Linked DNA regions of Homo sapiens: all the other regions are linked to region 1. Evidence: fine-mapped expression QTL. A gene starts in region 1. Each other region holds a variant in brackets. All regions are shown on one strand. Distances are from middle to middle.

Region 1 (2,760 bases):
GCCTGGGCAACATAGTGAAACCCCGTCTCTACGAAAAATACAAAAAAAAAAAAAAAAAAAAAAAGAAAAAGAAAAAATTAGCCGGGCGTGGTGGCATGCACTTGTAGTCCCAGCTACTCAGGAGGCTGAGGTGGAAGCATGGCTTGAGCCTGGGAGGCAGAGGTTGCGGTGTGTTGATCGCACCACTGCACTCCCGTCTGGGCAACAGAGAGAAACCTCGTCTCAAAAAAAAAAAAAAGAAAGAAAAGAAAAGAAAAAGGACACGAAATTGTGATACGACAACTCTGTGAAGACTACTAGATACATTACAAAATTTTTAATAGTAGTACTCTACGTGGCATTCTGGTAGAAATGATTTCCTTTCCTCAAACTCCCCATAATATTGTTACATGGTTTTTATACGGTCTGGGGGATGGGGGATAACATTAAATGACACCTTTTATGTTAAATCACAAACGCTGGAGTCAACAAAAGTTCTTTAAATTCCTCCAGCAGTAGAGCAAACTTGGTATTCCAATTCCCTCCAGGCTTTGACCAAGAGCGCACACGAGGGCCACCGCCTTCGTGATCAGAAGCGGGTATGACTGGGCACCGGTTGGTCCACTGCGGCTGTTCCAAGCTGCCCCCACAGCCTCACCCCAGGACTCCACCAGGAGCACAGGGAAGGGGTCCCCGAAAGTGGGCGAGGTCGCTGCCCGGAGGTAATGACCACTCCAAGGTCACCATGGAGAACCCGCAGACAGGGCTCGGTGTGGCCCAGGACTCCCCGACTCTTAAGTCCAGGTCTCACTCTCTGCGCCGCGCCGCGCCCCTCGCCCCATCCCGAGCAGCTACCCCGAAGCTCCCAGGGGCTCCGCCGAGGCGAATCCTCACATTGCGGCGTGGTGGCCGACAAAACCCGGGACCCTGATCTTGGCGCCTCCACGCCACCGCCCGGAGGCCAAGACCCCCGAGCGCCGCAGCATAGCGTAGCCCAGACCAGTCACCTCATCCTTTTTCGCCCTCTCAACCCAGCTTTTCCCGACTCCGGGAAGAACCGGGAAGAGAAGGCGGAGGGGAGCGAAGCGCCGCCTGATAAATACTGTGGCCCAGTCCCGCCCCCCTAACGTCACTTCCGCCCCGCGCCAAGATGGCGGCGCCCAGGCCCTGCCACGCAGACTTCCGCCCGGCGCGGAGACCGAAGGCTGGCGGCTGGTCGCGTTGCAGGTGAGGTTGTGACGCGCGGTGTGGAGCCGCGGCCCGGGTGCGTCCCTGTCTGGTTCCTGGGCGGGGTTCCTGGAGAGGGCGTGTCGCGAGCCAAAGGCTCTCACCTGGGTGGTCCCGGGAGTCTCGCCACGTGGGAGGGGAGGAGCTGAGAGGCCACTGGAGGGACGCACCGACTGGGGGACCGGAAAGCAAGGGGGTGGGGTTCCGCCAGGGTCCGCGTGTCAGTCCCCTCTGGTGATCTCGTCGCCCCTTCTCTCCCAGGCAACATGTCGGAAGGAAACGCCGCCGGCGAGCCCAGCACGCCGGGAGGGCCCCGACCTCTCCTGACTGGGGCCCGGGGGCTCATCGGGCGGCGGCCGGCGCCTCCCCTCACCCCCGGCCGCCTTCCCTCCATCCGTTCCAGGGACCTCACCCTCGGGGGAGTCAAGAAGGTACCCAACGGCGCGTTTCTAAAGAAACTCAACTACCTTGAATTCCAAGCCCCAGGATTCAACTAATGTTTGTGTAGGACCTACTGTGTGTCAGGACTGTCGTTGGGCCTCTCAAGCCTACCCCTCTTTAAATTCTAGGGAGTCTGTCCTACCTTCAAATCTAGGTACTGAGTACAAGATGTTGAAATGACTCCCAGAGGTGGTTGAAGGGCAGAGAATCCTAATAAGTTAAAGTCGTTCAAAAGCAATTTGAACAGTGTTTATTTACTTTTATTGTGTGTTTGGACATCTTTAAGAAACCCATGAAAGCCAGACAGGCATAAACTTCGCAGTCTTAGAGGGTTCAGAATTCACCATCTCTGTGTGCAAACTTTTTATCTAGAGTATGATGAATCCTAGGTATGGCATTCGAGGCTCTGTGGCCTCTCCCATGTGTATATGACTGTGGATGTCAAGAGTAGCCCAGAAAGGGGTGGGGTCAGGATGACAGAAGAACAAAGCAGGTTTTGGTTTTGGTTTTGGTTTTTTTTGAGAGGAAGTCTCGCCGTTGTCCCCCAGGCTGGAGTGCAATGGCACGATCTCAGCTCACTGCAACCTCTGCCTCCCAGGTTTGAGCGATTCTCCTGCCTCATCCTCCTGAGTAGCTGGGATTACAGGCGCCCGCCACCATGCCCAGCTGATTTTTGTATTTTTAGTAGACACAGGGTTTTGCCATGTTGGCCAGGCTGTTCTTGAACCCCTGACCTCGTGATCCGCCCGCCTGCCTCGACCTCCCAAGGTGCTGGGATTACAGGTGTGAGCCACCGCTCCTGGCCGAATAAAGCGGTTTTTTGGTTTTTTGTTTTGTTTTTAAGGGAATCTCTTTCTGTCGCCCAGGCTGGAGTGCAGAGGCACCATCTCAGCTCACTGCAACCTCCGCCTCCCGGGTTCAAGCGATTCTCCTGCCTCAGCCTCCCGAGTAGCTGGGATTACAGGGGCCCGCCACCGCGCCCAGCTACTTTTTGTAGTTTTTAGTAGAGACGGGTTTCACCATCTTGGCCAGGCTGATCTTGAACTCCTGACCTCGTGATCCACCCACCTTGGCCTCCCAAAGTGCTGGGATTACAGGCATGAGCCACAACGC
Region 2 (2,500 bases), 46 kb after region 1:
CTTTGGCAGTTTTTGGTTTTCTTTTAACAAGATTGTTCTCAATATAAAAGCTGTCTTCTGCAAAGAGCACAAACATTTCTAACCGTTCAGACTTCCAAAGGCAAATGTAGCTAAGAATAATGGAACATAATTTTATTACTCTTCTATTAGAAAACTCATACTTGCTTTTTATTTCAGGGTAATGAAACTTTTAGATATGAAGCTTGTGGGGAGAAACTTTTATGACCCTACAAGTGCTATGGTACTACAGCAACACAGGTTGGTACTTTTTTCCCTTCCCTCACTTTTGAATGTTCTGGAAAGAAAGTTTCCATTACAACCATTGTATTTAGTACTATAATGTCAGCAGTAGTTTATGGTAGTGAATACAGTTTATCAATTAAATCTCTTCCTTAGTTTGGTTTTTCAGTAAGTTTGCAATAATGTCAATTAACTTAGTTTCTTGAGGCTTTCTCATTACTATTAGGGAAGGGCAGTATCACCTCAATGTTTTGTTCACATGGGGGCATGGAAGTATATGTGTTCTTTGAAAATCCTACAGTTGAGACCACCTCTCTCTCCAGATTGCAGATCTGGCCAGGCTATGCAGCTAGCATCCGAAGGACAGATGGAGGGCTCTTCCTGCTAGCTGATGTCTCCCATAAGGTCATTCGGAATGACTGTGTGCTGGATGTCATGTGAGTGAATGGTGGGGTCTATCTTTAACATGCTGATGATTTTCTGAAAAGTTCAGTAACAGCTGGTAATAACACACATTAGACATTGTTCTGTTTGTTTGTTTTTTCCCCCAGAGACAGGGTCTTGTTTTGTCACCCTGGCTGGAGTACAGTGGTTTGATCATAGCTCGCTGTAACCCTGAACTCCTGGGTTCAAGTGATCCTACCACCTCAGCCTTCTGAGTAGCCAGGACTACGGGTGTGCTACCATGCCCAGCCAATTTTTAATTTTTTTTTTTTTTTTTTTTTGTAGAGATAGGGTCTTGCTATGTTTCCCAGCCTGCTATGTTTCCTGGCTTCAAGGGATCCTCCTACCTCAGCCTCTCAAGGTGTTGAGATTATAGGCATGAGTCATGGCACCCAGCCCTGTTTAGATTTTTAGTTGTAGAATAACTGAACTGAATATATGTGCCCTCGTCTCTAGTCCTCCTGAGATAAGCATCTGAATAGACATCTGCTGTGCTTTGAGAAGGAGTTTTGTTTAAATTTGTGGTTAGGAGAACTTGGTTTGATATATGCGCATGCTGAGTTTGCATATAATAATATACAATGTATGTGTTACTGTAGTAAATACAGATGTGTATATATATTTTTTTTAATTGAGACAGAGTCTCACTCTATCACCCAGGCTGGAGTGCAGTGGTGCAATCTTGGCTCACTGCACCCTCTACCTCTTGGGTTCAAGTGATTCTCCTGCCTCAGCCTCCTGAGTAGCTGGAATTATAGGCGCCCGCCACCATGTCCGGCTAATTTTTTTTTCTTTTCTTTTCTTTTTTTTTTTCTGAG[A/G]GAGAGTCTCTCTCTGTTGCTTAGGCTGAAGTGCAGTAGTGTGATCTCAACTCACTGCAACCTCTGCCTCCTGGGTTGAAACAATTCTCTTGCTTCAGCCTCCCGAGTAGCCAGGACCACAGGTGCATGCCTCCATGTCTGGCTAATTTTTTGTATTTTAGTAGAGATAGGGTTTCACCATGTTTCCCAGGCTCGTCTTGAACTCCTGAGCTCAGGAGATCTGCCCGCCTCAGCCTCCCAAAGTGCTGGGATTACAGGCACAAGCCACCGTGCCCAGCCAGATGTGTATAATTTTTAGTGGTTGCATGAAATCTCATCTTACACATAAGTCTGTACATCTGATTTTTTTAGGCCATGTACTTGGAAGTAGAATTACTTAATGGAAGGGCTGAACATTCTAAATCCTTTTAATATATATCTAATATAATATGATAGTTAACTGTATCTTGACAAATTACCCTGTAGAAGATTTATTCAGTTTCTTTTCCCACCAGCTATGTACAACCACTGGGTGTTATCGGGCTTGTAAATCTTTGCTCCTCTGACCATTTCATTCATTGCTTCAGTGTATACTTACTGAGCTCCAGTTATGAACCAGAGTCTTAGGACCTATCAGATAGCAAAACAAAGATCCCTCCCCTCACAGAGCCTCTGTTGTTACCAGGGGAGATGAACAGTAAATAATAAATGTAATAAATAAATTGTATAGTGTAATAAAAGCGATAAGAGCCATGGAAAAAAGAAAAAGAGCACACGGTCAGGGCAATCAGAAGTAGTGGGGCAGGGGGCGGAGAATTGCAGTTTTAAGTGGAGTGGTCAAGCTCATTTGAGCAAACGCTTGAAAGAGGTAAGAGGTTAGCCAGGTGAAGGGAGAAGAAGCTTTTGGCATGTGGACAGCTCAGGCACAGACCTTAAGACAGAAACAGGCCTGGTGCAGGCACATGCAGGGTGGCTAGAGCCGAGTGAGCAAGCAGGGTGATGGAGGGGCAGAGCAAATG
Region 3 (2,500 bases), 98 kb after region 1:
TTTTGCAAAAATTAAAACAAATTATAGACCTATGTTTAAAATGCAAAACTCTAAAACTTACAGAAGATAACATAGAAAATCTAGGTGGCTTTGGGTTTGGTGATTACTTTTTAGATATGATGCCAAAAGCCCATGAAAGGAAAAATTGATAAATTTTTCATCGAAAATTCATCGAATTTAAAAACTTCTGGGAAACACTGATAAGAGGATGAAACAACAAGCCATGATTAGGAAGAAATATTTGCAAAACACGTATCTGATAAAGGACTGTTATAAAGTATACAAAGAACTCTTAAAACTCAACAGTAAGAAAATGAACAACCCAATTAGAAAATGAGCAAAATACCTCAACAGACATCTCACCAAAGAGTATAGGTAGATAAGGCCGGGTGTGGTGGCTCACATCTGTAATCCCAGCACTCTGGGAGGCCAAAGCGGGCAGATCATGAGGCCAGGAGTTTGAGACCAGCCTGACCAATGTGGTGAAACCCCGTCTCTACTAAAAATACAAAACTTAGGCCAGGCGCAGTGGCTCACACCTGTAATCCCAGCACTTTGGGAGGGGCCGAGGTGGGCTGATCACCTGAGGTAGGGAGTTCAAGACCAACCTGACCAACATGGAGAAACCCCGTCTCTACTAAAAATACAAAATTAGCCGGGTGTGGTGGCGCATGACTGTAATCCTGTAATCCTGGTGGCGCATGCCTGTAATCGCAGCTACTCGGGAAGGCTGAGGCAGGAGAATCATTTGAACTTGGGAGGCAGAGGCTGCAGTGAGCCGAGATTGTGCCATTGCACTCCAGCCTGGGCAGCAAGAGCGAAACTCCATCTCAAAAAAAAAAAAATTAGCTGGGCATGGTGGCGCATGCCTGTAATCCTAGCTACTCAGGAGGCTGAGGCAGGAGAACTGCTTGAACCAAGGAGGCAGAGGTTGCAGTGAGCTGAGATTGTACCACTGCACTTCAGCCTGGGTGACAGAGCGAGACTCCGTCTCAAAAATAGGTA[G/A]ATAGATAGATGGCAAATTAGCATACAAGCAGGTGTTCAATATCACTTGCCCTTAGGGAACTGCAAATTAAAACAATCAGATACCACTACACACCTATAAATGATCAGAATTCAAAAACTGGTAATGCCAAATGCTGGTGAGGGTGTAGAGCCATAGGAACGCTCACTCACGGCTGGTGAGAATGGAAATGGTACAACCACTTTGCAAAACAGTTTGGCAGCTAATTACTAAACTAAATGTGCACTTACATACACATACCAACAATCACGCTCCTTGATATTTTCCCAAATAAGTTGAAAACTTACGCCCACACAAAAACTTGCACGTGAATGTTTGTAGCAACTTTATTCATTACTGCCAGAACTTGGAAACAGAGATGTCCTTCAGTAGGTGAGTGGATAAACTGTCATGCATCCAGACAATGGAATATTGTGTTAAAAGAAATAAGCCATTAAGCCATGAAAAGACATGGAGGAATCTTAAATACATATTGCTCAGTGAAAGATGGTAATCTGAAAAGGCTTTATATGATTCTAACTGTATGATAAATGGCATTCTAGAGAATGCATAAATGTGGTGACAGTAAAAAGTGGCTGTCAAGGGTTTGGAAGGGGGAGAAAGGAATAGGTGGCACACAGGATTTTTAGGGCACTGAAACTAGATAACATTATGCATTTGTCAAAACCCATAGAACTGTACAACACAAATATGTAAACTGTGGAGTATAGTTAATGTATCAACATTTGGTCATCAGTTGTAACAAGTGTACCATAATGCAATATGATAACAAAAGGGGAAACTGTTTATGGGTGGGGATAGGAGGTGGGAGGAGGGCATATGGGAACTCTGTTCTATTGCCTCAGGTTTTTTTGTAAACTTGAAGATTCCTCTAAAAAATAGTCTCTTAATTTAAAAACATACAGACACACAATGAGGTACCATATCGTATGCACGAGGATATCTAAAATTTAAAAGAGGCCAGGTATGATGGCTCATGCCTGTAATCCCAGCTCTTTGTGAGGTCAAGGTGGGAGGATTGCTTGAGCCCAGGAGTTTGAGACTGCCTGGGCCACATAGGGAGACCCCTATCTCTACAAAAATAAAAAATGAAAATAAATTATCTGGTCATGATGGTACACATCTGTGGTCCCAGCTACTCAAGAGGCTGAAGTGGGAAGATGACTTGAGCCTGGGAGGTCAAGGCTGCAGTGAGCCGTGATTGTGCCGCTGCACTCCAGCCTTGGTGACAGAGTAAGACCCTTTTAAAGAAAAGATTAAAATAAAATTTAAAAGACAAGTAATAAAAGTCTTGTCCAGGACATGGAGAAATTGGAAACTTCATAGATTGCTAATGGGATTGTAAAATAAAATAATGCAGCTACTTTGGAAAACAGTTGGGCAGTTCCTTAAAAAGTTAAGCATGCCGGGCTTAGAGGTGCAAGCCTGTGGTCCCAGCTACTCTTAAAGATAAGGTGGAAGAGTCACTTGAACCCG
Region 4 (2,760 bases), 32 kb after region 1:
GGGATTCTTTGGGTGGTGTTGGGGAGGTGTGAGCAGAGTCCTGGCTCACCGAAAAGGGGTGTTAGCAGTTAAATATAGCCTTCAAGAAAGGGAGTCATATCCTGCGTTTAGAGTGTGAAAGAGGATAGTTTAGTTCAATAAATTTTGCAAGTTCCTGAACTGTCTGCACTTACGCTGTGGGTTTATGAATTGTGTGTTAATATTTTCTTTAAATGTATGATTTCTCTGTAGCTAATACTTAAGACAGCTTTTTTGTTTGTTTGTTTGTTTGTTTTGAGACGGAGTCTCGCTCCGTAGCGCAGGCTGGAGTGCAGTGGCGTGATCTCTGCTCACTGCAACCTCCGCCTCCCAGGTTCAAGCGATTCTCCTGCCTCTGCCTCCCGAGTAGCTGGGATTACAGGCGCAGGCCACCATGCCCAGCTAATTTTTGTATTTTTAGTAGAGATGAGGGTTCACCATTTTGGTCAGGCTGGTCTCGAACCCCTGACCTTGTGATCTGCCCACCTTGGCCTTCCAGAGTGCTGGGATTACAGGCGCGAGCCACCACCCCCGGCCAAGACAGCTTTTTGAAAGTTAAGAAGAGGCTTCTCCCAGCATTTGGGGAGTCTGAGGTGAGAGGATCACTTGAGGTCAGCAGTTTGAGACCAGCCTGGGCAACATGGCAAGATCCCGTCTCTACAAATTTTTTTTAAAAATTAGCTGGGTATGGTGGCAGGTGCCTGAAGTCCTAGCTACTTGGGAGGCTGAGACAAGAGGACTGCTTGAGCACAGGAGGTTGAGACTGCAGTGAGCTAAGATGCCACCACTTCACTGTAGCCTGGATGACAGAACAAGACCCTGTCTCTTAAAAAAAAAAAATTCTTTTCCGTTAAGAAATATTTTTCAGGAATCAGGGGCAAGTCAGGACAATGAGAGGAGCCCCTTAAAGAGGGAGTCTTGAAATCTGTAGGTTATAAAGTGATATATATATATATATTTTTTTTTTTGAGACAGAATCTTGTGCTGTCACCCAGGCTGGAGTGCCACGATCTTGACTCACTGCAACCTCCGCCTCCTGGGTTCAAGCAATTCTTGTGCCTCAGACTCCTGAGGAGGGGGGATTACAGGCATGCACCACCATGCCTGGCTAATTTTTGTATTTTTAGTAAAGACAGGGTTTCATCATGTTTGCCACGCTGCTCTTGAGCTCCTGATCTCAAGTGATCCACCCGCCTCGGCCTCCCAAAGTGCTGTGATTACAGGCATGGGCCACCA[T/C]GCCCGACCTACAGGTTATGAAGTGATTTTGAAGAGACCTGATGGGCTTTAGATTTGGTAGGGAAGCCAGGGAGAGCCTCACCCCGGGTAACCTGGGAGAGAGAAGGGTGTTAAATGCAACCTGTGAGACTGAGCAAGTATTGTAGGCTCAAAGCAGAAAGACTGTGTACTCTGGAGACTTCTGATGGAGTTTGAAAGAAGAGAGTTTTTAAAATTTTTTTTTCTATTTTTTAATTATTTGTAGAGACAGGGTCTCGTTGTGTTCCTAAGACTGGCCTCAAACTCCTGGCCTCAATGGTCCTCCCACCTGGGCCTCCCAGAGTGCTGGGATTACAGGCATGAACCACTGTGTGTGTGTGCTCAGCCTGAAGGAAGAATTTTGTAAAAAAGAATTGGATAGAGATTCGGAGAAGCAGCTAAACAGATCAAGGAAGAGAATTTGGTGCAATCATAGACTGGAAAAAAGTTAGGACTCTTATGTAGGAAAGAGAGGCCAAAAACAAAGCAAAAACCCATAAATATTTGTTGACAATAATTTTATGATATGGCTGTGTTAACTATGAAATTGTTTATAGGCCAGGCACAGTGGCTCACACCTGTAATCCCAGCACTTTGGGAGGCCCAGGTGGGCTGATCGCCTGAGGTCGGGAGTTCGAGACCAGCCTGACCAACATAGAGAAACCCCGTCTCTATTAAAAATACAAAATTAGCCGAGCATGGTGCTGCATGCCTGTAATCCCAGCTACTCGGGACGCTGAGGCAGGAGAATCACTTGAACCCAGGAGGCAGAGGTTGCGGTGAGCCAAGATTGCACCATTGCACTCCAGCCTTGGCAATAAGAGTGAAACTCCGTCTAAAAAAAAAAGGGGGGGAGGAAAAGAAATTGTTTATAAACCAAAGTCATCCTCATACATAAAAACTGCCTTAGCCAGGTGCAGTGGCTCACACCTATTATCCCAGCATTTTGGGATGCTGAGGCAGCAGATCTCTTGAGCCCAGGTGTTTGAGACCAGCCTTGGCAACGTGGCAAGACCCCGTCTGTACAAAAAATGTACAAATTAGCTGGGTGTTGTGGTGCATGCCTGTAGTCCCAGCTACTCAGGAGACTGAGATGTGAGGGTCACTTGAGCCCAGGAGGTCAAGGCTGCAGTGAGCCATGATCATGCCACTGCACTCCAGCCTGGGCGACAGAAGGAGACCCTCCTAAAAAACTGCTTCCTTATACAACAGCTAGTTAACTCACAGGACTGAGTTTTGTGAGAGGCTATTTGGGTAGAAAATATAAGTAAGTTCAAGGAGGACACGGGCCTCTAAGGCAGGGGTTCCCAACCCCCAGGCCACAGGCTGGTTGGGGGGCCTGTTAGGAACTGGGCTGCACAGCAGGAGGTGAGAGATTGGCAAATGAGCAAAGCTTCATCTGTATTGACAGCTGCTCCCCATGGCTTGTAGTATCACCTGAGCTCTGCCTCCTGTCGGATCACTGGTGGCATTAGATTCTCATTGTGC

What was found.
Region 2: its variant is fine-mapped to the expression of POLR3D in whole blood (TOPMed, PIP above 0.99).
Region 3: its variant is fine-mapped to the expression of POLR3D in whole blood (TOPMed, PIP above 0.99).
Region 4: its variant is fine-mapped to the expression of POLR3D in whole blood (TOPMed, PIP 0.99).

What each region holds. Positions count from the first base shown.
Region 1 is chr8:22,243,978-22,246,737 of GRCh38, forward strand. It overlaps POLR3D (RNA polymerase III subunit D), which reads left to right and starts at 1,156. Exons shown (of 9, transcript NM_001722.3): 1 at 1,156-1,206; 2 at 1,468-1,637. The coding sequence starts at 1,473. It overlaps MIR320A (microRNA 320a), which reads right to left and starts at 1,060; the gene lies at 989-1,060. RefSeq lists enhancers at 931-1,598, 1,066-1,135, 2,260-2,429 and a silencer at 1,446-1,625.
Region 2 is chr8:22,289,670-22,292,169 of GRCh38, forward strand. PIWIL2 (piwi like RNA-mediated gene silencing 2) reads left to right here. Exons shown (of 23, transcript NM_018068.5): 9 at 178-258; 10 at 564-677. Among named protein-coding and RNA genes, the nearest start is that of PIWIL2, 16 kb to the left of the region's middle. RefSeq lists an enhancer at 2,034-2,203 and a silencer at 2,367-2,500. The variant A/G (reference allele first, on the strand shown) is at 1,503.
Region 3 is chr8:22,342,604-22,345,103 of GRCh38, forward strand. The region is part of intron 20 of PIWIL2 (piwi like RNA-mediated gene silencing 2); the gene reads left to right. Among named protein-coding and RNA genes, the nearest start is that of SLC39A14, 23 kb to the right of the region's middle. The variant G/A (reference allele first, on the strand shown) is at 1,006.
Region 4 is chr8:22,276,059-22,278,818 of GRCh38, forward strand. The region is part of intron 1 of PIWIL2 (piwi like RNA-mediated gene silencing 2); the gene reads left to right. Among named protein-coding and RNA genes, the nearest start is that of PIWIL2, 2.1 kb to the left of the region's middle. RefSeq lists an enhancer at 1-183. The variant T/C (reference allele first, on the strand shown) is at 1,255.